Homo sapiens: one gene and its partners. The protein of the gene in region 6 purifies or fractionates together with the protein of the main gene of each other region. This does not show direct contact. Each region holds a gene or a part of one and is shown on either strand. Other genes may lie near its edges. The genes, in order: MBL2, TSR1, ACAD11, SLC35G2, NOTCH2, PDIA5 and TSPAN7.

What was found.
Region 1: the proteins of PDIA5 (region 6) and MBL2 purify together in Homo sapiens (affinity purification with mass spectrometry; one large-scale study listed by BioGRID and IntAct). This does not show direct contact.
Region 2: the proteins of PDIA5 (region 6) and TSR1 purify together in Homo sapiens (affinity purification with mass spectrometry, with the first as the bait; one large-scale study listed by BioGRID). This does not show direct contact.
Region 3: the proteins of PDIA5 (region 6) and ACAD11 purify together in Homo sapiens (affinity purification with mass spectrometry; one large-scale study listed by BioGRID and IntAct). This does not show direct contact.
Region 4: the proteins of PDIA5 (region 6) and SLC35G2 fractionate together in Homo sapiens (co-fractionation; one large-scale study listed by BioGRID). This does not show direct contact.
Region 5: the proteins of PDIA5 (region 6) and NOTCH2 purify together in Homo sapiens (co-immunoprecipitation; one large-scale study listed by IntAct). This does not show direct contact.
Region 7: the proteins of PDIA5 (region 6) and TSPAN7 fractionate together in Homo sapiens (co-fractionation; one large-scale study listed by BioGRID). This does not show direct contact.

Annotation. Positions count from the first base shown.
Region 1 is NC_000010.11:52,769,985-52,774,199, forward strand, and holds the start of MBL2 (mannose-binding protein C precursor), read right to left. Parts: upstream 2,801-4,215; 5' UTR 2,753-2,800; intron 1,676-2,752; exon of another isoform or gene 1,661-1,675; 5' UTR 1,652-1,660; coding exon 1,465-1,651; intron 803-1,464; coding exon 686-802; intron 1-685. UniProt on the Homo sapiens protein: Calcium-dependent lectin involved in innate immune defense. Binds mannose, fucose and N-acetylglucosamine on different microorganisms and activates the lectin complement pathway.
Region 2 is NC_000017.11:2,324,177-2,326,457, forward strand, and holds part of TSR1 (pre-rRNA-processing protein TSR1 homolog), read right to left. Parts: intron 1,245-2,281; coding exon 1,128-1,244; intron 1,089-1,127; exon of another isoform or gene 654-1,088; coding exon 513-653; exon of another isoform or gene 403-512; coding exon 328-402; exon of another isoform or gene 199-327; coding exon 20-198; 3' UTR 1-19. UniProt on the Homo sapiens protein: Required during maturation of the 40S ribosomal subunit in the nucleolus.
Region 3 is NC_000003.12:132,639,310-132,642,809, forward strand, and holds part of ACAD11 (acyl-CoA dehydrogenase family member 11), read right to left. Parts: intron 3,494-3,500; coding exon 3,368-3,493; intron 2,825-3,367; coding exon 2,663-2,824; intron 348-2,662; coding exon 183-347; intron 1-182. UniProt on the Homo sapiens protein: Acyl-CoA dehydrogenase, that exhibits maximal activity towards saturated C22-CoA.
Region 4 is NC_000003.12:136,853,257-136,856,388, reverse strand, and holds the end of SLC35G2 (solute carrier family 35 member G2), read right to left. Parts: exon of another isoform or gene 2,120-3,132; intron 1,947-2,119; 5' UTR 1,929-1,946; coding exon 690-1,928; 3' UTR 501-689; downstream 1-500.
Region 5 is NC_000001.11:119,961,663-119,965,162, forward strand, and holds part of NOTCH2 (neurogenic locus notch homolog protein 2 isoform 1 preproprotein), read right to left. Parts: intron 2,146-3,500; coding exon 1,912-2,145; intron 1-1,911. UniProt on the Homo sapiens protein: Functions as a receptor for membrane-bound ligands Jagged-1 (JAG1), Jagged-2 (JAG2) and Delta-1 (DLL1) to regulate cell-fate determination.
Region 6 is NC_000003.12:123,073,525-123,077,024, reverse strand, and holds part of PDIA5 (protein disulfide-isomerase A5 precursor), read right to left. Parts: intron 1-3,500.
Region 7 is NC_000023.11:38,683,542-38,686,479, reverse strand, and holds part of TSPAN7 (tetraspanin-7), read right to left. Parts: intron 1-2,938. UniProt on the Homo sapiens protein: May be involved in cell proliferation and cell motility.

The DNA of each region.
Region 1 (4,215 bases), on a different chromosome or scaffold from region 6:
ATAATGTGCTCTGAGTCTTCAAGAAGCCTAAAGCCTATCTTATTTCTACTCTTGGGAATCCTGTAATCACTGCTATGTGAACAAGCCCTGTTGGATGATGAGAGATGTGGTTCAATTACCCTCATCACTCCAGCTAACATTCAGACAACAGCCAGACACATGAGTGAGACTATTGGCCATCAGTTGACCACAGACATGTGGGTAAGCCCAGCTTAAACCAGCAGAGAAATCACATGGCCGACCCACAGACTTGTGATTTAAATTGACGGCTATGTTTTTAAGCTATTAAGCTTTGGCTTGGTTTCTTATGAAGTAAAATATGACATACCATGGTTACATGCTTTTGTAAAAATAGGTATAATAAGCCCACACTTAGATGGCCTGTTTTCTCCCTCTAGGACCAGGGCCTCACATTAGACTGTTTCAGCTGATGGAGAATCCAGGCTCAGCTCTTACAGGGAGTGCCTGATGAGGGAGTTGTCTTGAAAAGTTTGTAAGTCTGTACTCAGGCACTTATAGGAATTCCCTAAGGCTCTAAGAATGAAGAGAGGGCTGAGGGCACTGGGTCAGAAAGCAAATTTGGGTATCTTCCTTTGAAGGAACAGGAGAAGGGGCACCTCTTACCAGATACTCAAGGTCTCAGAACCCTGGGTGAAGTCAGCTCAGACCTTGCTGGGGTCCTTACCCGGACTTTTTCCAGGGTCTCCTTTTTGGCCCTTTGGTCCTGGTGACCCAGAAGGCCCTGGATTTCCTGGAGGCCCCAACTTTCCAGGGGGGCCCTGTAAGCCTCTGAGCCCTTGGCCTGTTGGAAGACAAAGGAAATGTGACTTAATATCTATGTTCTTGCTCTCTCTCTTCAAGAGTTTGATGCCCAATCCCTTCTCAGGAGAAAGGAGACCTTGACCCAGGACTGACCTTTCTGAGCACTGCTCTCAATAACTGTATGGTGGGCACCTGAGAGCAATAACTTAAGAAATAAAGTTGCCACGTGGAGGTTGCTGCAGGGAGGGTGCAAAGTGAAAATTAACTGCATTTGTTTTTACCAGTAGTTGTTGTTCTCCTGTCCAGCCCACTGCTGCTGGATCTCCCTGTAAACAGATTCCCCCAGTAAAACCTATGTTTGTTTGCTGACTCCATCTCTTCTTTGGCCTCTTGAACCTGGTGCCATCCCTACTGAAGTGAATAGGGGTCTGACATGACAATGACCCAGAGAAGAAAAATTCATCCTGTGTCCCACGGGATGGCCTGACCTGTGGGCCACTTTCCTGGGCTGGCAAGACAACTATTAGTCACAAACTGCTGTGTGGAATTCTGAGATGCCAGAGAATGAGAGCTGAATCTCTGTTTTGAGTTACAGTATAGTTGAGAAAAATATACTCAAATAGGACATCAGTCTCCTCATATCCCCAGGCAGTTTCCTCTGGAAGGTAAAGAATTGCAGAGACAGAACAGCCCAACACGTACCTGGTTCCCCCTTTTCTCCCTTGGTGCCATCACGCCCATCTTTGCCTGGGAAGCCGTTGATGCCTGGAGAGCTACAGGCAATCACTGCAGGGCAGGTCTTTTGGGCATCCTCACAGGTCACAGTTTCTGAGTAAGACGCTGCCACCATACTCAGGAGAAGGAGAGGGAGTGATGGAAACAGGGACATGGTCCTCACCTTGGTGTGAGAAAACTCAGGGAAGGTTAATCTCAGTTAATGAACACATATTTACCGAGCATGCCCTCTGTCCTACAATCTGGGTGCAGGCTATATAGAAATAGATGACCCATCCCTGGCCTCTAGCTGGGGATTTGGAAAAGTAAACATTCCTTGTGACACTGCGTGACTAGTACTTTAACAAAGGTAGGCACTATGATGAGCAGTGGGGATCCTAAGGAGGGGTTCATCTGTGCCTAGACACCTGGCGTTGCTGCTGGAAGACTATAAACATGCTTTCGGTGGCAGTGAGAACAAATGGGACCGTGCATTGCCAGCTGGCTTATGCCTGTTAGCTTAGGGAATGAGAATGAGTGGAAACCCAGGTGTCTGTAGGAGCTTCCTCTTTCTCTCCATGTCCTCTTCGGGTCCATCTGCCACCTGAATCCCATCTTTGTATCTGGGCAGCTGATTCCCCTCCAGGACCTGTTAACTATCATTTACTCATTGGCAGGCCCTGAGCTGAAAGCTGGTGATCCAAAGAGGAAGGTCTCAACCTCAGATCAACCTCAACCTTAGTCACCAACCCAGCCCAGAATTAACTGGAGTTTGCTTCCCCTTGGTGTTTTAGACAGGCTTGCCTGGGTAAGCATTTTCTCTGGAAATTTCTTACTACGTTGGCCCTGGCAGAGTGCTAAATACCTCTCTACTTTCTGGCAGGAATTCCCCATGTTCTGTGAGTCAAAAACCACTGGCAATTAGAAAACTTGCCTTGAATCCTCCTCCCATTTCTCAGTATTAACCTTTCATTTGTTCTTCAGAGCTTTCTTCCAGCTATTGCCCCCTAAGAAACCTCAGCAGCCTAGCCCCATAGGTCTAAGCCTCCAAGTTTCCCTTTGAAAACAAAGACAGTCTCCACTGCAGATGAACAGATAATGGAGGAAAGTCACAGATGCTCCAGCACAAGCAGAAAAAGAGACATCCTCAACCTGATTTCTGCTTTCCATCCCACTCCCCCCACCCCTAGAAAGCCTCCTCCATGCCTCCAGGGTCATGTCAGCTCCCCAAACCCTTGATCCGGAAACCCAGATTTATTCACCAGAAATGACTTACTGGTGTTTCTGCAGAGCAGGGACTCAGTGACAAGGACGCTGGCCCTCTAGCCTGGGGCTCTGGCAGATGCCTCAGAGTGAGGGAGGAGGCTGGGCTCAGCAATGTAGGGCCCAATCAACCTTGTGAACAAGGATATCCTGGGCCTGGCCTTCAACTCCAGATTAATAAACAGCTCTTCTCAGAACTATGAGAAATTTAGGAGCCTCCAATACAGTGCTCGGCAGCTGTCTGCTTTAATACAGCACAATTCCTCTTTCAATTGCCATCCATTTTGGCAAATCTCATTGCTGAACTACCACAGCTAGGTTCACCTAGTTAGTCCTGTTGACATCCTTGTTTCCAACAGAAAAACAAAGATACTCACAAATGCATACACATGCTCATGCACACCAACTATACACACAGACACGTGCATGCACGCACACACCCATCCATGAAACCACATAGACCTCTTGCTGCCATTAATGCATTAAGGCCATTCCTGCCTCAGACTCTTCATTTGATGTCTCCATGCCTGGACCCCTTACGGGCATCGCCAGCTAGCTCTTTCTCTTCTATTCAAATATTCCAATTTCAGAGAAATCAGTACCTTGATCACTTATTCTAAAATAGTCCTACCTAGCAGTCTCTATCCTCTTAGCCTGAATTATTTTCTCTCATGTTACTTACACTTTATGATATTATAGTCATTGACTTTACTTTTCCAGTTTTTCATTGTGGTAAAATAGACATAAAATTTACCATTTTGACCATTATTATTAAGCACACAACTCAGTAGCATTAAGTACATTCACACGGTTGTGCTATCATCACCACATCATGGGATGATTTTCATCATCCCAAACTGAAACTCTCAACTCATTAAACTAGAATTCTCCATTTACCCCTACCCACAGCCACTGGTAACTTCTGTTTTACTTTCTGTCTCTCTGAATTCATCTATCCTAGGTACCTCATATATGTGAAATCATACAATAGCCCCCTTGTATCTGGCTTATTTCACTTAGCACAATGTCTTCAAATTTCATCCTCATAACAAGAATTGTAAACTGTGTTAAAGACTTTGGGTTTCCTTCCAGGGGGCACTAGAGGGACTGCAGTAGTGGAGAGGTGATCACATTTGAATTTTGCAAGGCTTGTTCTGGCTATGATGTTGAGGGGAACAGGACTGGAGAAAAGCAGATCTAAAAGGAAGTGCTTGCCATGATCTAAGCAGCAGAAGACAGTGGCCTGGGTCAGGGTAATGGCAGCTAGATTAAGAAGGTAGGCACACTTGAGAAACAGGAGGTATTGATTGCACTTGAGAATTAGCTAGAATAGTGAGTGATAATAAGAAGTTTTCATGGGCACACACATTTATGACTTGACTATCTAGGAGCCACTCAACTGAGATAAGAAGCAAAAGAACAGCACTTGGCACTATAAGATCATGGGTATCGTGTGTGTTAATGGCTTGAACCATC
Region 2 (2,281 bases), on a different chromosome or scaffold from region 6:
CAGAATCTCTTTGAATCCATTACTCCATGCCCCCTTGAGGCACTGTTGAAGAAATCTCACTTTTCAGCCAGGGTACTGGTTCTGGTACATATGGATCATAAGTCCATTTGGGGAAGACTCGTTTATACAGGTTCATCAGTACTGTGTCTTGAGATTTTAGCTTCCCATCAAAGCTGCATTTCATGTGGCCATGGGTACCTAGAAAGACATCAGAACAAGTCGGTCAAATTAAAAGTAGAAAATTTTAAAGCAATGACTTCCAACCCAACAGTCATTTAGCAACACTGCAGAAATGCAGACATGGTCTCAAATCCCGTGTTTCCTTACCTAAAGGTTCCTTGATATGTCCTCTCCGGCCCCACTTCGTTCTCAGTTCCACTGGTTTAAACCACAGCACATCCTCTTAGAATCAAACACATTAAAGACCAAGATGAAACATTTACCCACAAAATGTAAACCCAACCTTTATACCACAAAGGCAATCAGATCCCATCCTCCTCCTTCATACCCACCTCTGTTGAAGAACATGTAACGTACTACTGCCATCTTAGTAAAAATTTTGAAAGGATGACCACTCAGAACAACTCTCTTGATGACCATTCTGTCTGGATCTACTGACATAAGATGGCCTGTAGCAATGAGGCTGTGCATTCCTAAAGGACAAAAGCAAAGAAGCTATTTAGGAATTTACAGGCCAAAGTCTTCATTTATTGCCCAGTCCATTTAAAGACCCATGCAAGAGCCTGGTTTGTCATCCCTGCCCTAGCCCAATCTGAGGCTAAGATTGGTAAACTGTAAGCCCACACTTAACCTTGTCAATAGGTTCTTGAAAACTTGTACTTCAAGAGAAATGATGTATAACAAAACCATACTTTTTCTCATCAGTTGTTACAAGGAAAGGATGTTGAACAAAAGGCAGTTATTTGAGGACTGGCTATACACTGTTTCACGTAAAAGTTGGAGTTTTCATTGTTCTATTAACAATGTTAAATGAAGACTTACTGTATTTTGAAAACCATCATTACCTTCTCCATACCATTTGGCTCCCAAATTTAAATAAACAAGAGAAAACGGTGTTCATCTATTAAGGACCTGCAGGGTCTGTTCATCTCTGTGGCTCAACTTACCATTGCTTTTTTGCTTGAAAAGCAGCACAGATGCAGGAGGAAAAGTGATTGGCGCATAGACTGTCGCCACCAGGGCCATGTCAGCAGTCAGGAATCTCTGCAATTTATGTTTGTCCGCTGCCATAAGGGTTAAAAAATGAAAAGCAAAACCATTTTGAGAAACCAGAGGTGATAGAGGCCTGTGAAAAGCTGTATTAGTGCAACTCTTAAACCTATGGCAGCTTCTACTTCTCTAAACCACCAGTTCTCAAAAATTTTCGCTGCCTCAATGCACCTAAAAGATACGATCTAGTCCTATCAGTAACTTTTTTTTTTTCTTTTTTTTTGAGTTTGAGTATCGTTCCTGTCACCCAGGCTGGAATGCAATGGTGTGATCTCAGCTGACTGCAACCTCTGCCTCCCGGGTTCAAGCAGTTCTCCTGCCTCAGCCTCCTGAGTAGCTGGGATTACAGGCACATGCCACCACGCCCGGCTAATTTTTGTATTTTTAGTAGAGACCGGGTTTCACCATGTTGGCCAGGCTGGTCTCGAACTCCTCACCTTGTGATCCACCCACCTCAATCTCCCAAAGTGCTGGGATTACAGGCGTGAGCCACCGCGCCAGGCTGTATCAGTAACTTTTTATTTATTTATTTATTTTGAGATGGTGTCTCGCTCTTGTTGCCCAGGCTGGAGTACAATGGTGCCATCTCTGCTCACTGCAACCTCCACCTCCCAGGTTCAAGTGATTCTTCTGCCTCAGGCTCCCGAATAGCTGGAATTGCAGGTGCCTGATCAGTAACTTTTTTATCTGGAGTCAGAATCTTGGAGCCTAGACTGTATTTGATGTTCTACCTTCAAGGTAGCCCTCACCTCCTTTTTAAAATACTAAACTTAAAGGAAAATAAAATATTTTAAGGCAAAGAAAAATTAATCTCACTTAGAGATTGTGATTCTCACAATTGGTGAGAATAAAAATTATCCAAAACACCATTAATACTGCTTTCTTCATATTCCTCCTGCCACTGCTGAGAGTGAGTGAACTAGGACGATGTTCAGAAGCCCCCAAGTTAGTGGGCAACATATCTTCCTGCTCCTACTGTGTAGGAGACAATCATTTCTGCTGCAAGTCCCGTCCAGTAGTCTCTCAGTATCTCAGGACCCCTACCTCTGCT
Region 3 (3,500 bases), 9.6 Mb from region 6:
CTAACTTATGCTGGAAAATCTGCAGGACTCCTTTCTAAAAATTTTGAGTGGTGACGACAGTCCTGAGCTGTAGGGGAACAGGGAGTGGGTTGGGCTCCCTCAGTGCTCTGGGGGGAGCATTTACTTAGTACTGTGTCACAAAACAGACCTACTCAATTAATTGTAAACATAGCTAACTGTACCTCTTTAGGGTGGAAAACTATGTTATCTAGTCTGAAATCTCCATGAATCAAATTCTCTTCATTGTCATTATCGGGCAAGTTCTTCATTAGCCACTCCGATAGCTGTTGCATGGCAGGGATGTCCTGATGAGCTGCAGCTTGATATTGCTTTGTCCAGGTTGATACCTAAAGACATATAAATAAGAAAAATGGTAAAGCTGAAACTGGAATGTAGGATCTAGCAATTCTAAAATTAAAACAAAATTCAAATGCTGTTTTACTCCTAAATACTTAAGACCCATGCTGGTGATACTCCTGTCATCCTAAAACACTCAAATCAGCCTAAACCTTAAACATTTAAGTCTCTTTTCCATATAGTTCCATTTTACTTACCTAGTTTTTTATCAAGAGAAAAATACTGGCCTAGGGATCAAGAGATATGGGTTCTAGTCTTTATTCAGCAACTACTTTGTAGAAGAAAAAAAAAGAATGCATACAAACACACACACGCACACACACACTCTCTCTCACACACACACACACACACACAAATATATAGGCATAGATAATCTCTGGAAAGGGTCACGAGAAATAAGTAACCCCTGAAAAAGGGAATATGGGGACTAGAAGAAAAAAGAAGACATTTACTTTTTTTTTTTTTGAGACAGAGTCTCGCTCTGTTGCCCAGGCTGGAGTGCTACCTCCACCTCCCAGGTTCAAGTGATTCTCCTGCCTCAGCCTCCTAAGTAGCTGGGATTACAGATGCATACCACCACACCCAGCTAATTTTTGTATTTTTAGTAGAGACGGAGTTTCACCATATTGGTCAAGCTGGTCTCGAACTCCTGACTTCGTGATCCGCCTGCCTTGGCCTTCCAAAGTCCTGGGATTACAAGCTTCAGCCACCGCGCCCAGCCTACTTTTCATTTTAATACTCTTTCTTATTACCCACAGAATTTTCTAAATATTTTACAGGTATGAATAGTGTAAAGATCTTCTATTGTTCTTAGAATTGAATGCAAACAAATCAACTTACTCGTAAAGTCCTCCAACAGGTGGGACCATATTGTTTATTTGCTTTTTTATCTCCATTTCCCGAGGTATCTTTGCTCAACTTAGTGCAATAGAGCAAAGACCTTTACTTGGTCTTATCTAGTCATATCAACCTGGGTTTAAATTATATCTAAGCCACTTACTTGTGTATTACTTGATTGATGCAAGCCTCCCTTTCTTCATCTGCAAAATGGGAGTAATAATACCTATATCTTAGAGTTGTTGTAAAGATCAAAAAAGAGAGGCCGACAACTCACTCTGCCATGTAGGACCTAGCATATAGTGAGTACACTCTAAACTTTAGTTCCCTTTTCTCTTCCTTAACCCCCACAAAATGATATGCTTACAAAGGAAAGCAGCCCCATATATATCTAGTATTGCTTTCCTTTAATTTAAAATGATCTCCATCACTCCAAATTTTATCTTTCCTTAAATACTCATTATAAGATATCTCTCCCAGGAAGCTTTCTCTATATAAGCAAGGGCATCCCAACTTCCACCCTTTGAATCATGGTGAGTATCAAACAATTTACCACTAGATTTTACACTCTTTTATACCATTTTCAGGTTTCGTGAATGACATGCATGTACAGGTCTCTCAAAAATGACCATAAGTTCCTGTGGGGAAGAACCTATTGTATATTTTTCTTGATATTTAACACAGTACTCAGCAGGTATTAAACACACAGTCAAGCTTAATAAATGTCTGCTAGTCCAATTGAGAAAGAAAAAACTGTAAGCCGGGCATGGTGGCTCACGCCTGTAATTCCAGCACTTTGGGAGGCTGAGGCGGGCGGATCACGAGGTCAGGAGATTGAGACCATCCTGGCTAACACGGTGAAACCCCATGTCTACTAAAAATACAAAAAAATTAGCAGGGCGTGATGGCGGGAGCCTGTAGTCCCAGCTGCTCGGGAGGCTGAGGTAGGAGAATGGCGTGAACCTGGGAGGTGGAGCTTGCAGTGAGCAGAGATTGCACCACTGCACTCCAGCCTGGGCAACAGAGGGAGACTCTGTCTCAAAATGATGATGATGATGAAGAAGAAGAAGAAGAAGAAGAAGAAGAAGAAGAAGAAGAAGAGGAGGAAGAAGAGGAGGAAGAAGAGGAGGAAGAAGAGGAAGAAGAGGAGGAAGAAGAGGAGGAAGAAGAGGAAGAGGAAGAGGAAGAGGAAGAGGAAGAAGAAGAAGAAGAAGAAGAAGAAGAAGAAAAAACTGTATAGTTAAAAGTATTGGAAAATTAAGAGTCTAAAACAGAAGATTTTGCTGAACAAAACCTAATATAAAAACATAAGATAATTTTATACTAAAAACTAGTCATTCTGAAGGACAATGTTAAAAGTCATGGCCAAGCTTCAGAAAACTATACAATAATAGCTTTTTTTGTTGACTAATAAGGTATATTATTTACAAGAACTTGAAAAAAATAGCTATTAATGTGGATGCATTACCTGTCTTTTGCAGTACCCAGCACCTATACCATATCCTTCCAGCTGCAGTGACTGTATATTCAAGGAATGTAACTGAGCCAATGTTTCTACCGTGGCCACATATATGGCTGAACGTTCTGCTGGGCTAAGTCCAGGAATTGTTAAATCACGGAAGATTCGACCCTATGGAAGTGATTACAACAGATTATTTAAATGTGTATAATCAATACTTTGTCGAATATACTAGAAAAACATTCATTTGTGAAACATATTTAATATTAGAGTATACATGCCAAAGGGAAAATAAAAGGATATGCCAAGATGAATATAAACATCAAAACTACTCTCAACTATTTTACAGAAAAAATTTAAAACACATTTTGAATTTATTGTTCTTAATGGCTTGACCTATGTGGAGTCTGTTTTCCCTGCTACCTTATGGACAATTTGGTTATTGCCATTACAGATAGCTCTTTACTGACACCTAGAGGAAAATTTAAGAATAAGTCAATACCCCCTAATTACTAAATTTGTTTCTTGTCTATTCCATCCCTCCCTTTGTAAGTGCTCAAATTTGAACAAAATTGTAAACCTTTGCAATGCAATCTAATTACCTAAAATGTTAAATAACAAACTATATCATTTATTAAGTATCATAATAAAACATCTTAATTAACTTCATAATTAAAAGTAAAAGCAACAAAATAAGATTAAGTGTTAATTTACCTGCACATGTTCCATTACGTAAAATTCTGTTCCAATGACAGAAGTATCACTGCAGTACAGTATAGGCTTGGGAACGGGGAATCCAATTGAAAACAAGGCTTTCTGGACTTTAAATTCTCTATCAATCTAAATA
Region 4 (3,132 bases), about 14 Mb from region 6:
CCCTACCCCAACGTTAGGTCTCCAAACATCAGGGACAAAATGGCATGGGCTAGGTAGGACTGGCAAGAATCCACACTTCTCCCTATTTCTATTTCCTATGTATCGCCTAATGTGCTCATAATAAGGAGAAAACCAATTTCCTGTTCTAACTTTGGACAGCCACCCATTGTCATTAAAAAACCACTTATTTTCCCTTCTTTCCTCTTTTCTTGCCTCAACCCAGGCTCCTTTACCCAGCCCTATGACTTCTAGTTTTCTAATGCAAGTAGATGACAAAACAGGGTTTGGTGTTCAACATTTCACCTTATAGTGTATTTTTCACAAATGAAGGAGTTTTGTTGAACATTTGTAGAACATTTCTAATTTTTGAACTTCAGTTCCATCTGAAAGGGGTCATTTCTTTGAGTCTTCTATTATTTAGTAATAGCAGTTAACATTCTCCTTCTACTACAATTTACCTGGAAAGACACCCATAAATACCAATAAAGATACCAGATTCATAACGTATTTCATATATTTAATATTTGTATTTGAATATATTAGACTAGAATAAATTTTCTGCATTTGTATATATTATATATTTTATAGCACTCTGTCAGTTATATAACACAAAAGACATTCATAGGTAAACATTAAAATGGCAGTATACATAATAACTGAACATTAATGAGACAATAATAATCAGGTATTCATTTAATGGGAGAGTCTAGTATTTCCTGGTAGTCCTGCTTTCTTAAATTCCTCCAGTAAAGTTTATAGCCAGCAAGGACAAAAACACTAATCATAATGATTACCCCTCCAAAAACATCATAGATGCTAGGAAATATGTGCAGCACGAGAAGCTGCAAGACCATAGCTACCACAATCTCCAAATGTTGTACTGTGCTAACCAAAGCTGGATGGAATTTGTCCAAGGCATAATAAACTCCTAAGAATGCTGCAGTAGAACAGACACATATAGCAATGAGATAACTCCAGGTTTCTCCATCTAATGGGATGATGGGTTCTTGAAGAATAAACATAGTAGATATTCCCCAAATTGTCCCAGTCCAACCAAAAGTAAACAGTGCAGTCCACATGCTGATCTTCTCCTTGATGGATCTGTATACTATCATTGAGAGAGCAGTGGTCAGTCCAGCCATCACAGTCATGGTGTACCCAAAGGCTTCTTTCCAGGCATTTAACAAAGAATTGTCTTCATCAACAATGTTTGGGATCATGACAAGACAAACACCTAAGATGCTGCAAACAACTGTAGCCATGTCAACATAAGCCATTTTCTCATCTACGAGTAAAAAAGCCAAAATGGCACTGAAGACTGTAGTTGTGGCTCTCCACATAGTGGTCCCATTGCTGGGAGGAACTATTGAAAATGATGTATAAGCACAAGTGATAGAAATGACATTGCATACACCATAAAAGAAGAGTCGTAATCTGTATCCACTGGGTCCAAAGGGGGCCTCCTGATAGTAACACACAACTAACACAGATAAGACCTGAAAAACAGAACGGATAAAAATCAGTTCTAGAGATGGAACTTTAGACCGATCAGAAACAAGCCTAGTGATAAGAGCTACACATCCATGAGCCAAAGCAGATCCAAACAGCACTATCCACATTTTTCGGGATTGAAAAATGTTTTTTTCTGCAAAGCTCTGGAATTGTCCAATCTCATTGATCATTGGGTCTTCTGTTGGTGGAGGTAGGGTATCCATGGTTCCAAAGAAAGCTCTCCCTTTTTTTTTCATTTCACTCAGCAGACCTTTCTTTGGATTTTCCTCCATAAAATTTCCATAGCCTTCATTGATTTCTTCATATCCATCATCGCCAGGCTGGGGATAATGAGAAGTATATTTCACCATCACTGTGTTGGGATGTATTTTCACCCGTTTTTTAACTGGATATTTTCTGGAGGGAGAAGTATCCATTTCTTCAGATAATCAATTCTATTTAAAGAAAAAAATTGACAAAAAGACATTCATTTCATTGAAAATTTAATTTCTATTATAATCATATGCATCAATTCAATGATAGAAAGTAGAGGCTGTAACAGTAGTCCAGAAAAAAAAGAAATTAGAGATGATCTGGCAATATGCCTTATCAGATGTATGGTACCTACTGGAATTGTTTACCCTTTTTTCACTCTCATCTGAAGTCTGTCTCCATTTCTCTTTGCTTACTTGTTTAATTCAGCTCTATCTTCTATCTTTATACCACAAACGGATTTTTCCATCTTTTCATTCCTACCTGTTTCTCCACCTATCCAACAAGCAAAACACAGAAAGATAAATAATAACTTAGGTCAAACCTTTCCTTCTCATTGGGTCCATTTGCCTGTTATAAATTATTAGTTAAGTCCAAAGTATTTTGTATAATCAATTCTGTATAATACCAGAATTCACCTTATAAATTATAGTGATTTTTAAACATTTATTCTGGACTCCCCATAAGTTTTGAGATATAAAAATACACTGAAATTAGAACATAAATAACATGAATTTAGTAACACTCATGCATTGTTGGTAGAAAGGTTAAATTGTACAACCTCTCTCGTGAACAGTTGGACCATATGTATTAAGATTTTAACTATCCTCTACTCAGCAATACCACTTTTAAGATTTTATGCTAAAGAGATGATCACAAGATGCTTTTTACATTCTGAATAAAAAAGGGGGGGAATAAGAATACGTATTTATATTTGTTTACATAACAAAGAAATTATATAAAGATGCCAAGAAAACTAATGGTGGTTCAGGTGACAGGAGGAACAAGAATGGAAGAAAACCTTTTTGTTATTTATTTTTTTACATTTTTATTTTTGAATTGTGATATTATCCAAAAATAGAATTAAAATGTTTATCTGTTACTTAAGAAAAAGAATATACCAAAAAATGTGGGGAAAATGTACATACAGGAGAGTTCATTGTAGCTTACTACAATGAATGTTCATACAATGGAATACTATGCTATCTATTAAAAATGACAGTGTAGGCACGGTGGCTCACACCTGTAATCCCAGCATTTTGGGAGGCTGAGGCGGGCGGATCACTTGAGGCCAGAAGTTTGAGAGGAGTTGGCCAGCCTGGCCAACATGGTGAAATGCCATTTCTACTAAAAATACTAAATTTAGCC
Region 5 (3,500 bases), on a different chromosome or scaffold from region 6:
CAAGTTGGTCTGTTACTTGAAACACAAAGAAACTTACTTAAAACTTTACTATCATAAAAGCACAGATGAGAGAACGCACTGAAGGTAACTCTGGGTAGTATATCTCACTTTAAGTACCCAGTGAGTGACTACCACAATTTTAGCTGACAAACTGTAAAATATTTCTTCCATCCACTCCCCTATCCAAACACCAAACTACCAACTTAGGCCATATAAGTGGAACAGGAATTCTTACTCTAGAACTTCAGACTCTATTCATAATGCCTCTTTTAATGGATTTTCCACCCAGGTCCCTGATACATGCCAGGTCTTTCTCCACCCATTACAGATCAACATTTTTTTAATGTTGTCTGACCGTTGCTTGCTTTAATTCTCCAAATAACTGCAGGAACATCTTTGGCAGGTTCTGACAGATTCCGGGCCTTCCTTTCCATGCTGCCTACAGATCACTCATATTGACTTCTCACCTTCTCAGTGACAGCTACTTATACCATACCCTCTCTGTCCTCCCCAGAAAACACCTGATATATCCTGGTATAATGATATAATGCCAGAGAAAACAAAGTGCTTGCCAACCCACCACTCACCCAGGTTTCCAGTATGTTTATTATGATGGGAATGATAGCAAAGTCTAAAGCCCCTCGATTCTAAAGACATCCAGTCAATTGCTTGTAAATCTCTCAAATTTCTTTTCCTACTATAATTTCTCATGTCTGAGGAACAGCCCGGAAGCAAATTGCTTTTGGAAGTTTTCACAAAGATCTATTCAGCCCTTTTAGTGAGTTATCTAAATGTGGGGAGGGAAAGGCATTTTCAGCTGTGACGGCATGGGATGTTTTTCGTATGCTTGAGCAATTCAAAAAGGACTTTGTTTTCAAACTTGGCATGTATGAAGCCTTGGGTAAAGACCAGAGCCTTTGACAAATTTGAAGAAATGGATTTGGAAACAGTAAAAGAAAATGAGGGTAGCTAACTACCCTCTCCACCTCTGCTCTCTACATAGGTCATTTTCCTTACATCCAGAATGAGTTCTCAATAAATCACTCCTTTATATTGGCAGGTTTCCTTCTAACAAAGGCACACATTGGTTAATCTTCCACTAATACATTTTCCTTTGATCTGGAACATAGTACATCTCTGTCCACTAACCATAGTTGTGACCATAATCATTCATCTAATAAGTAAAACAGAACCATCCAAACCTGTGAGATGCTGCTGCCTGAGAAAATAATTCCACATCCCCCCAGAAAGGAGCAGCATGTCCTCACGACCAACAAGGAGTCATTCAACCAAGGTCAGAGAACAATGATGAACTCCGAGGATAGGAAATGACAGCTCTGCGTTCTACTTTAGTTACTGTGGTGTGTTGTAAGGTATCTCCTCTTCCTTAGAATCCCCCAAGATGGCTAAGGCCCCACCAGAGACAAGTGACTGAAGAAACATGTCACAATAAAGAGACTGAACTGTGAAAGAGAAAATACATTAAAGGAAGGGAAGAAGGGAAGAAGGAAGGTAGGTAGGAAGGAAGGAAGGAAGGAAGGAAGGAAGGACTGAATTTATTAATCTGGGTGGGGTGGAACTTAAAGAAAAAAAGATAATATAGCCACAAAAAAGAGGGTTTTCAATTTTAAATCATTAATTTTAATTTTTGAAGTGGTATGCCTCTATTTAACAAAACACACACAAACACACACACAAAATCATCAGATTGGCAGAGCTATTGTCTCTGACTTCTCCACTGGCTAGGGCCATTTGCCTTGAGACATTTATGTTTGTGGCTTTGGCTGTGCTTCTCAGAATCAGGACTGTTTTTTAGGTATCTGAGCATATGCCAACAGTCTGAAACATCTGTGTAAACAGATTTGAGAAACAGTGAAAACCCCATACCAAACATAAACAGAGTGGGCTTACCTGACGTGCCTGGCTGGCAGTTGCACTGGTAGCCATTGACCAGGTCAATGCAGCGACCATCGTTCAGGCAAGGGCTGCTGTAACATTCATCAATCTGGTCACTGCAGATGGCGCCCATGTACCCGGGATTGCAGATGCAGGTGTAGGAATCAATACCATCCTGACACTGACCATGGTGGCAAGGATCGGGGTCACAGTTGTCAATGTTCTCCTCACACAACACACCAGTGAAACCTTTGGAAAGAATTTTATCAAGGATTCTCAAAGACCAAGGCAGATATTCCACACCAGAACACAAGTGTAGCTACATCCATTTACTCTACACATTCGATGTGTGGTCAATTAATACTGCAGGTCTTGAGCAGTAGAAAACGACGATCTGCATTGATTTAGAAAGTATGCCTGGAGAGAGGTGCTTAAAATAAAGATTTCCAAATCAAATTTTAGAATTGAAATACCTTCGCAACTGATCAATAATTTCATTGCAGAGATGCTTTAACTGCACCTTCATTTCTTACTAGGCTTCAGGTATAACAGCTCAAAATATTTTTCCTTTATATATTTATCTTTGTATTTCTTTCTTCCCAAGTCCAATATACAGGTTAATGATTTCATGTATCTTATGTCCCCAATTCTGACTTTGGAGGTAAGAGAGCTTTATTTTACTTCTCTCAACTCCTCTGAGAGTAGTATGCATATATAGTAGTTTTAAATAAATACTGGTTGAATAAAATGAATGAACCTGTTATGAGAATTTAAAAGAAAAAGAGACAAGTAAGATTTCCTTTCTTCGAGGTGTAAATAGACAAACATTATATCTTTCCCTAAAAGACTCCAGGAGTCCTCCCCCCACTTTTAAACCTGAGCTAAAGGTTTTTAATCTCTTTGAAACTTATCCTCTACAAGAAGAATCTGGCCAGGGGAAGACAAAATCTGGATTCTCTGACAAGCATTAACTATTTGCAAAAAGAAAGAAAGTGGCTCATCTGAGTTGTCCTAAACTAAGTAGGTCTAATAATTAAAATATTAACTTTTTGTATTAATTTTCACAATTAAATTTGCTTTTCTGTGATCAGAAATAAATTATATGCATGATGCCTTTAATCTTTAAGACTCCATTCTCTAAAATTAATGTCTTGAATTACATAAATAACTTCTTTCTCAAGCAGTCAGATAATAAAGAAGTTCACTTCTAATAATTTCTAGCCTTTCTGTATAATATTTGCCTGTGTAAAAGGAAATGTGTAATAGGGAACATCTGGCTTACTGAAATCCAATCCCAAGTACAAAATGTGATTACAAACCCAGAAATGCAGAATATTTGTGCACAGATCGTTTTTGACTCTAGTTGCAGAAGTCAGCAAAGAGGACCCAAACTTTCCCAGTGAGAGCTCTCTCTCCTGTCATTTACACACTTGACTCTCAATCCTATTTTGGTGTCTTTTATGCAGAATACCCCTGCACTTGTACACATTCAGCCTTTAAATTTCTGGGCCTTCTTTCAGTCACTTGCTTCAAGAAACACAGAGCCAGGCCTCCTGCTGAGAAGCCCCAGTGAAAAATAGCTTTCAACTGGATTTCTTCTCTTT
Region 6 (3,500 bases):
CATTTGGGGCTACGCAGCACAGTGTCTCCCCTTTTTATTCCCCATGGCACAAATGTTGCTGTCAACAATGGACAATTCAGGGGCAGGGCAACTTATCTGAGAGCTTATGAAAACAGGTTTTCTTATCCTGAAATTGCAACTGCAGTGCATTTAGCCAGGACTTAAGTCCCTAAAGCTTTTAATGTTTTGGAAAACCTCTTCTTGAGCCAAGAGGGGTCTGGATCACCGCCAGCTTGGTGTGCCAGGCCTGTTAACGAGGAAGAACTGGTAGAGGGAACATTGAATTAGGCAGCAGGGAGGGAGGAAGAGCAGGTGAATTCCCACTCCGGAAATCAACTCTGCCTCCAAGCTCCGTTAACTGATAAGAAAATAACAACTCAGTGTTCATGACCCACGGTGTACATCCATGCTTTTACACACATGATCTCATTTCATCCTCTGAAGCTGAGAGTCTAAGCCACTGTTTCCACCCTTCAGGTCTCAACCCAGGAGTCTAGTCATAAAATCAGTGAGTTACAGTAGCATTTTTAAAAAATTACATTGACTAGAAAACATCAGTGAGTAGCACAGGTAGCAACACTATGCATTCAGTGAGCCCAGTGTGTACTGGGTTACACTGTAAAATGTATAACTGTTCTTGCAGGAGTTGAAAAATTGTCATAAACAATGAGTGTTTATAGGCAGAGGTGGTACTATCCCCACTTTAGAGATGTGAAAACTGAGGCTCAGAGAAGGGATTTGCCTCGGATTAAGCCTAAAACAGTAGAGCCAGGTCCCCGCCAGGACAGATCTGATGCTTTTCTCTTGGGCTGTCAATGTGAATAGTTCCCACAGACATCCCTGGAGCATCATCCACTCCCCGTTGCTCCACCCAGAATAATACCCGAGAGGCTGGCAAGTCTGCTGTCCCTTCCAATCCAGCTATTGAGCGTGACCTGCTGAAAAGAGCTACAATGACAACCTGATCCATCTTCCCTCTGCTACCAGCATGTCCACAAACCCCCAAATCCCTTCAGAGAAAAGCACATGCTCAGGCCAAGTGACACCAAGCAGACAATGGTGACACAGCTCCAATGTGAGCAGAACTTGTGCTACACACTCAATTGAGAGCACCCACCTCGGCTGGCAAAATACCACCAGCCATATAAGATTAACTTGGAAATGTGTCTAGTTTTGTAGCTTTACCGCAGAGCTCGGTATTCTGGGAATACAGATTCCTGGGCTTTATTCTTGAAGAAAAACATCTCCAGGGGCTGGGAGCCCAGGAATCCATTTTACACATATCTCCTTAAGGTGAAGAAACTCCATCACTGACCCATCTTTTAAAAACTCTCTCTCTGGACCCCATATCACTCCCCTCTCCACTCACAGCCAGAATTTTCCATCTCCCCTGCTCCTCCCATTCTCCTCCCTCCTTCCATTGCTCATCCCTCTGAAATCTGCCCTCCCCACAACCACCACAAAAAAGGCTCTTGGTGAAGGCTCAACAATGACCTCCTATAGATAAACCCTACAGGCACTTCCAGTTCTCATCTTGTTTGGCCTCTTGAACTGGATGCGACACTTGGTTTCCCTCCTACCTCTCTAGCAATCATTCCTTTCTTCTTTGTAAACCCTCCTCTCCCCATTCTTTCAATGTTGAAGTTCCACAGCTCACTCAGTCTACCCTCTCTTCCTACCCTATATGGTCCCCCAGCCAACTTCACCCACTCTCCTGAACAGCACCCCTAAATTAACATCTCCAGATCAGACCTCTCTTCTAAGCAACACATCTTTACGTCCTGCTCACTCAGCAGTTGAACTGGAGTCAAGTACAGTTCTAAAATGTTAAAAGCCTAATTCTCATACAAATAGGTATTGAGCATATTTCAAAGTTTTACTTAACTCGCTAATAAGAGACCCTAAAAAAGAGGATATAATCCTGATATAAGATTGCTACATTAGATACCAACAGGTTAATGTCCTTCAGGGCAATAATCTTTGTGCTTCTCTTCTTTACCAAACAGAAATAATTTGCATCCTACTTAACTTTACAAAGTATGGCCCATAAAAAATAATAAACAGAGTTACATCCCCTAGAACACAGCTGGTCCTTAGGTGGTTTCTTATACAATACTCCAGTATGATACTAAAATGTCACAAAATCATCTTTTATTTCCAAGTGTTATATAATTTTTTTCCACTGTAGTCTACGAATTTGGATGGAGAAAAATGACATCTTTATCTTCACTAACCTCTAACTGAAATTTAGCCTTTCCTGTATTATGAATGTATTTATAAATGTATAAATGCTTTCTACATTTATGAATGTAGATAACAAATTACAGTAGTAATTAGGGTAGCAGTGTCTGTGACTTTGCCACCAACAGAAATCATATTTTCTTATCACATTACAAGATATCCTGAAACACTATTTATGCTCATCACAACTTAAAATTATAGAAGTTATCAAGCTTGTACCTTTGATCTTTTTATATGATGCATTAATAAACATAAATATTATTTTATCACAACCTTGTTGTTATATTTTGATAACTGTATTTCAATAAAACTGCTTTCTTTGTAATTCTATGCATTTTACTTTATACATTTAAAAACATTATTCTAAGAAAGACCCAGAGGTTCTCAGAGAAGGCTTTCCTGACTCCTTGAATTAGGTTAGGGATCCCTGTTATACATTCTCTTACCACATTATATTAACACTTTCTCTTTCCAGCACTTACTACCTGAATTAAATAATTAATCAGTGGCTGTCCCACTAGGCCATGAGAGAAAGAGATGGTGTCTGTCTTATTTATGGTTATCCCCAATGCCTTAGCATGAGGCCTGGCTCATAAAAGATTCTCAAGGAAATATCCATTTGGGAAAAAAAAGAAGTATCTGTTGAATGAATGAACATCTGTGGCACATGTAGGATGCTGATGTTGGTCCACCTTCCTTTGAAATAGGGGCATGTACTAATACTCTGCCCAGGACCCAGTAAGACTAGACCCTGTGATGAGAACAAACCCACTCGTTCCTCAAGACCCTTCCCTACTTGGCCCAAACAACAGAGCTTTCCTACCAGGCCCACATCTGGGCTCAGATACTGGATCACCTTTATGTTTAAGCCCCAGTTTACAACCCTCAACCTTGATTTTCATCAACATCTTCCAACAAGGATTAAAGGACCTGCTCACGACTTCCAGAAATCTGCCTGCGCCAAGGGGTTGGAGGAACTGTAGGATTCTTTGCAGGGAATGGACACTCCACCCTTGCGCCCCCGCAACTCTAGTGAGCTGGAAACTCTGAAGCCAGACACAGGCCCACCATCACACCATCTAGGAATGGAATGTGCATCAGACTGGGGCCTCAGTATGACTTTGAGGAATAAAGGCTCTTTTAACCCCACACTCCATGAGTGTCTTCAACCCCCCAATGTAAGATCACAAAGCTAATTATTTAGAAGTGGTTGCAAACTGGTATGTGGAAAGAGGCCCTGCTGATGTAGGGTGGCAATA
Region 7 (2,938 bases), on a different chromosome or scaffold from region 6:
CTGGGGGGTGGGGCCCAGTAACTGGTGTTTTAACAAGTCTTCCAGGGCAGGGAACTGCTCATCCAGTCCACCTAGTCACCCTTATCTTATAGGTGAAACACCTGCTGCCACTTCAGGTCCCACTGTTGGTCAGGGCAACACCTGAACTCCATTCTCCTGGCTCTTAACCTATCCATGCAGGTTCCAGTTCTCATCTCTTATCTTCCTTTTTCAAATTAAAATTGTGCTGTGAAATATGCAAACTATAACCGCTTTCAGGTAAGGAGGCATCATCATCTTATTGGACTCGTTCTATCTCCTACCAAGGCTCTGGCCAACATCATTTGGTGCCATAAAATACATAGTCGCATGCACTTACTGCCAAGTGGCTGAAGATACCATGGCTGTAACCTTTAGAATATTCTGCCAAATGAGAAACTAAAATATGAGTGTAACGACCTTGAACCTTATAGCTTGTCTTTTTTATTAGAACTTCCATTTTCCAGAACCAACAAACACCAGAACACACTTGATAATGTCAAAAATCAAATAAGTGTCAGAGGTATATAACACATTCAGGTAGAACAGATTACAGTCATCCCTTAGTATCTGTTGGAGATTGGTTCCAGGACTTCCCAAGGATAGCAAAATCCTAGGATGCTCAAGTCCTTGATACAAAATGGTGTAATATTTGCATATAACCCATGCACATCCTCCTTTATATTTTAAGTCATCTCAAGATTACTCATAATACCTAATACAATGTAAATGCTGTGTAAATAGTTGCTATACTATATTGCTTTTATTTGCATTATTTTTTGTTGTACTGTTATTTTCAATCCATAGTTGGTTGAATCCATGGATACAGAACCTGCAGATACGGAGTGATGACTATATTGAATATCCAGGCTGGAGTGCAGTGGTGCAATCTCGGCTCACTACAACCTCCACCTTCCAGGTTGAAGTGATTCTCCTGCCTCAGCCTCCTGAGTAGCTGGGATTACATTTGTGCGCCACCACATTCAGCTAATTTTTGTATTTTTAGTAGAGATGGGGTTTTGCCATGTTGACCGGGCTGGTCTTGAACTCCTGGGCTCAAGTGATGTGCCTGCCTCAGCCTCCCAAAGTGCTGGGATTACAGGCATGAGCCACTGTACCTAGCCTGTACTGAATATTTACCACAACCTGTACAATATTACAATCTCAGTTTTCCAGATAAGAAAACTGAGGGTTATGAGAGGTTAAAGAATACACCCCAAGCTACACAGGTAATTCTCAGAGCTTAAGGTTGTACCCTCTTGTCCTATCTAAGAATAGCCCCAGCTCTGTCCTGCCCTCTACATAGAAAAGGTAAACAGGTCTTCTCAAGGGCCCCCCAAAAGAAAAGAATGACCAGCACATAATGAATCACCTTAGCAGCATTTAGACCCTGGAGGAGGCCAGACAGGAGGGTGAGGGTTAGAAAATGGATGGGTAGTAATAGGGTCTGTGTTTTCTTATGAGTACCTTTTCCTTTTGAATTTCACAGACTGAAGTCTTTTTGTTATAAAAGCACAAAATGAATTCCCTTCAGGTGCTATCAGTGGCAGGAACAAGGGTGATCTCTGGCCTTAAAAGTTAATACAGCAAGCCAGGTGAAGAGGTCAGAATTATAATCCTGGATCTATAGTAGCTGCCCAACTTCAAGCGAGTCACTCAACCCTCCCCTTCTGGAAAACAGCTCTACTGTCTTTACTCAGGACTATAATATTACGTGATATGGGGAATTAATCCAGCCTAACAGGTTCCAAGTCTAGCAAAGCCCTGGGTCTATTTAGACACAGAAGTACTAAATACAGAAGCCCAGAGGACACCCCACCACCCCACCACAGACACACATGCATATGTACATATACACAATGTCACAAATTGAACAATAAACATGTCCATGCCCAGACATCCCATGGCTCTTGTCTTCCAGGCCATTTTGGGGGTGGGGATAGGACAGGGGTGATGTGCGTGCATGCTCCATCTCTCACTCTCCCCACAAGCCCTCGAGTGAAAGAGCAGTTGCCAAAGATGCAGCGAAGAGGTACCCTACTAAACACACTCAACCTTCTGCTATAAATTTATAGGGCAGCAGACCCTGCCCATCAAGTCCAGACAAATGAGGTTTACCTTGAGAGGGCAAAGGTAATGGACGTTTGTAGAGAGAAGTGTTTAATGCTTGACACAACCCTGCTGCTGTTCAAAAACAGCACTCAGGAGCTTTCAATTAGCTAAGTTAGCTAACAGGGGACAAAGTTCTTGCCCAGTCTATTAAAAGGCTAGACCCAGCTTAGTTTTCCTAATACTTTATACCACCTTTAATCTTTGAGACAATAGATGTGCATGGCCAGTTTCTTCCAAAAGATGATAGCACGGAGGTCACAAGAGCAAGCAAAGCAAAGGGCAAGAAAAAGGTCGAGGGCAGGAGAGCAAAAGTGGGAGGGAGGAAGAGAGAGAGCGAGCTCTGTTCTTTCCTACCTACTTTGTCCTCTCTGTGGCCTCTAACTTAGTAGAGCCTTCTTTATTATAGGAAGGCTAAGGCATAGGCCAACACAACTGGTTCATCAATATCAGCCAACATTTGCTAAATTTTACTATGACATTGGCTCTAAAATTTCTGAACACATGTAGCCAAAGGTCTGGTTCCAGGTCACTGACCAGAATCAGTAGGGCTGGTTCTTTGTGAACAGGCATCTGGTAAGTGGCCACCATTGTCCCAGGGATGCCCTGGATCTATGGACGTCTGGAAGCCAACTTCAGCTTTCAGGACCCCTGAGGCTGACAGCACCATAAATAGCTGCAGTTCCTGGTGCATCTGGCTGGCAGAAGCCAGCCATAGCCATTTCTCTTCCTGCCTGAACCTGGGAGCAGGTCTCAAGTCTCTGCCCTGCTGGACCTGCCTGGCCACATGGGTGAGCAGTATGGGCACCAT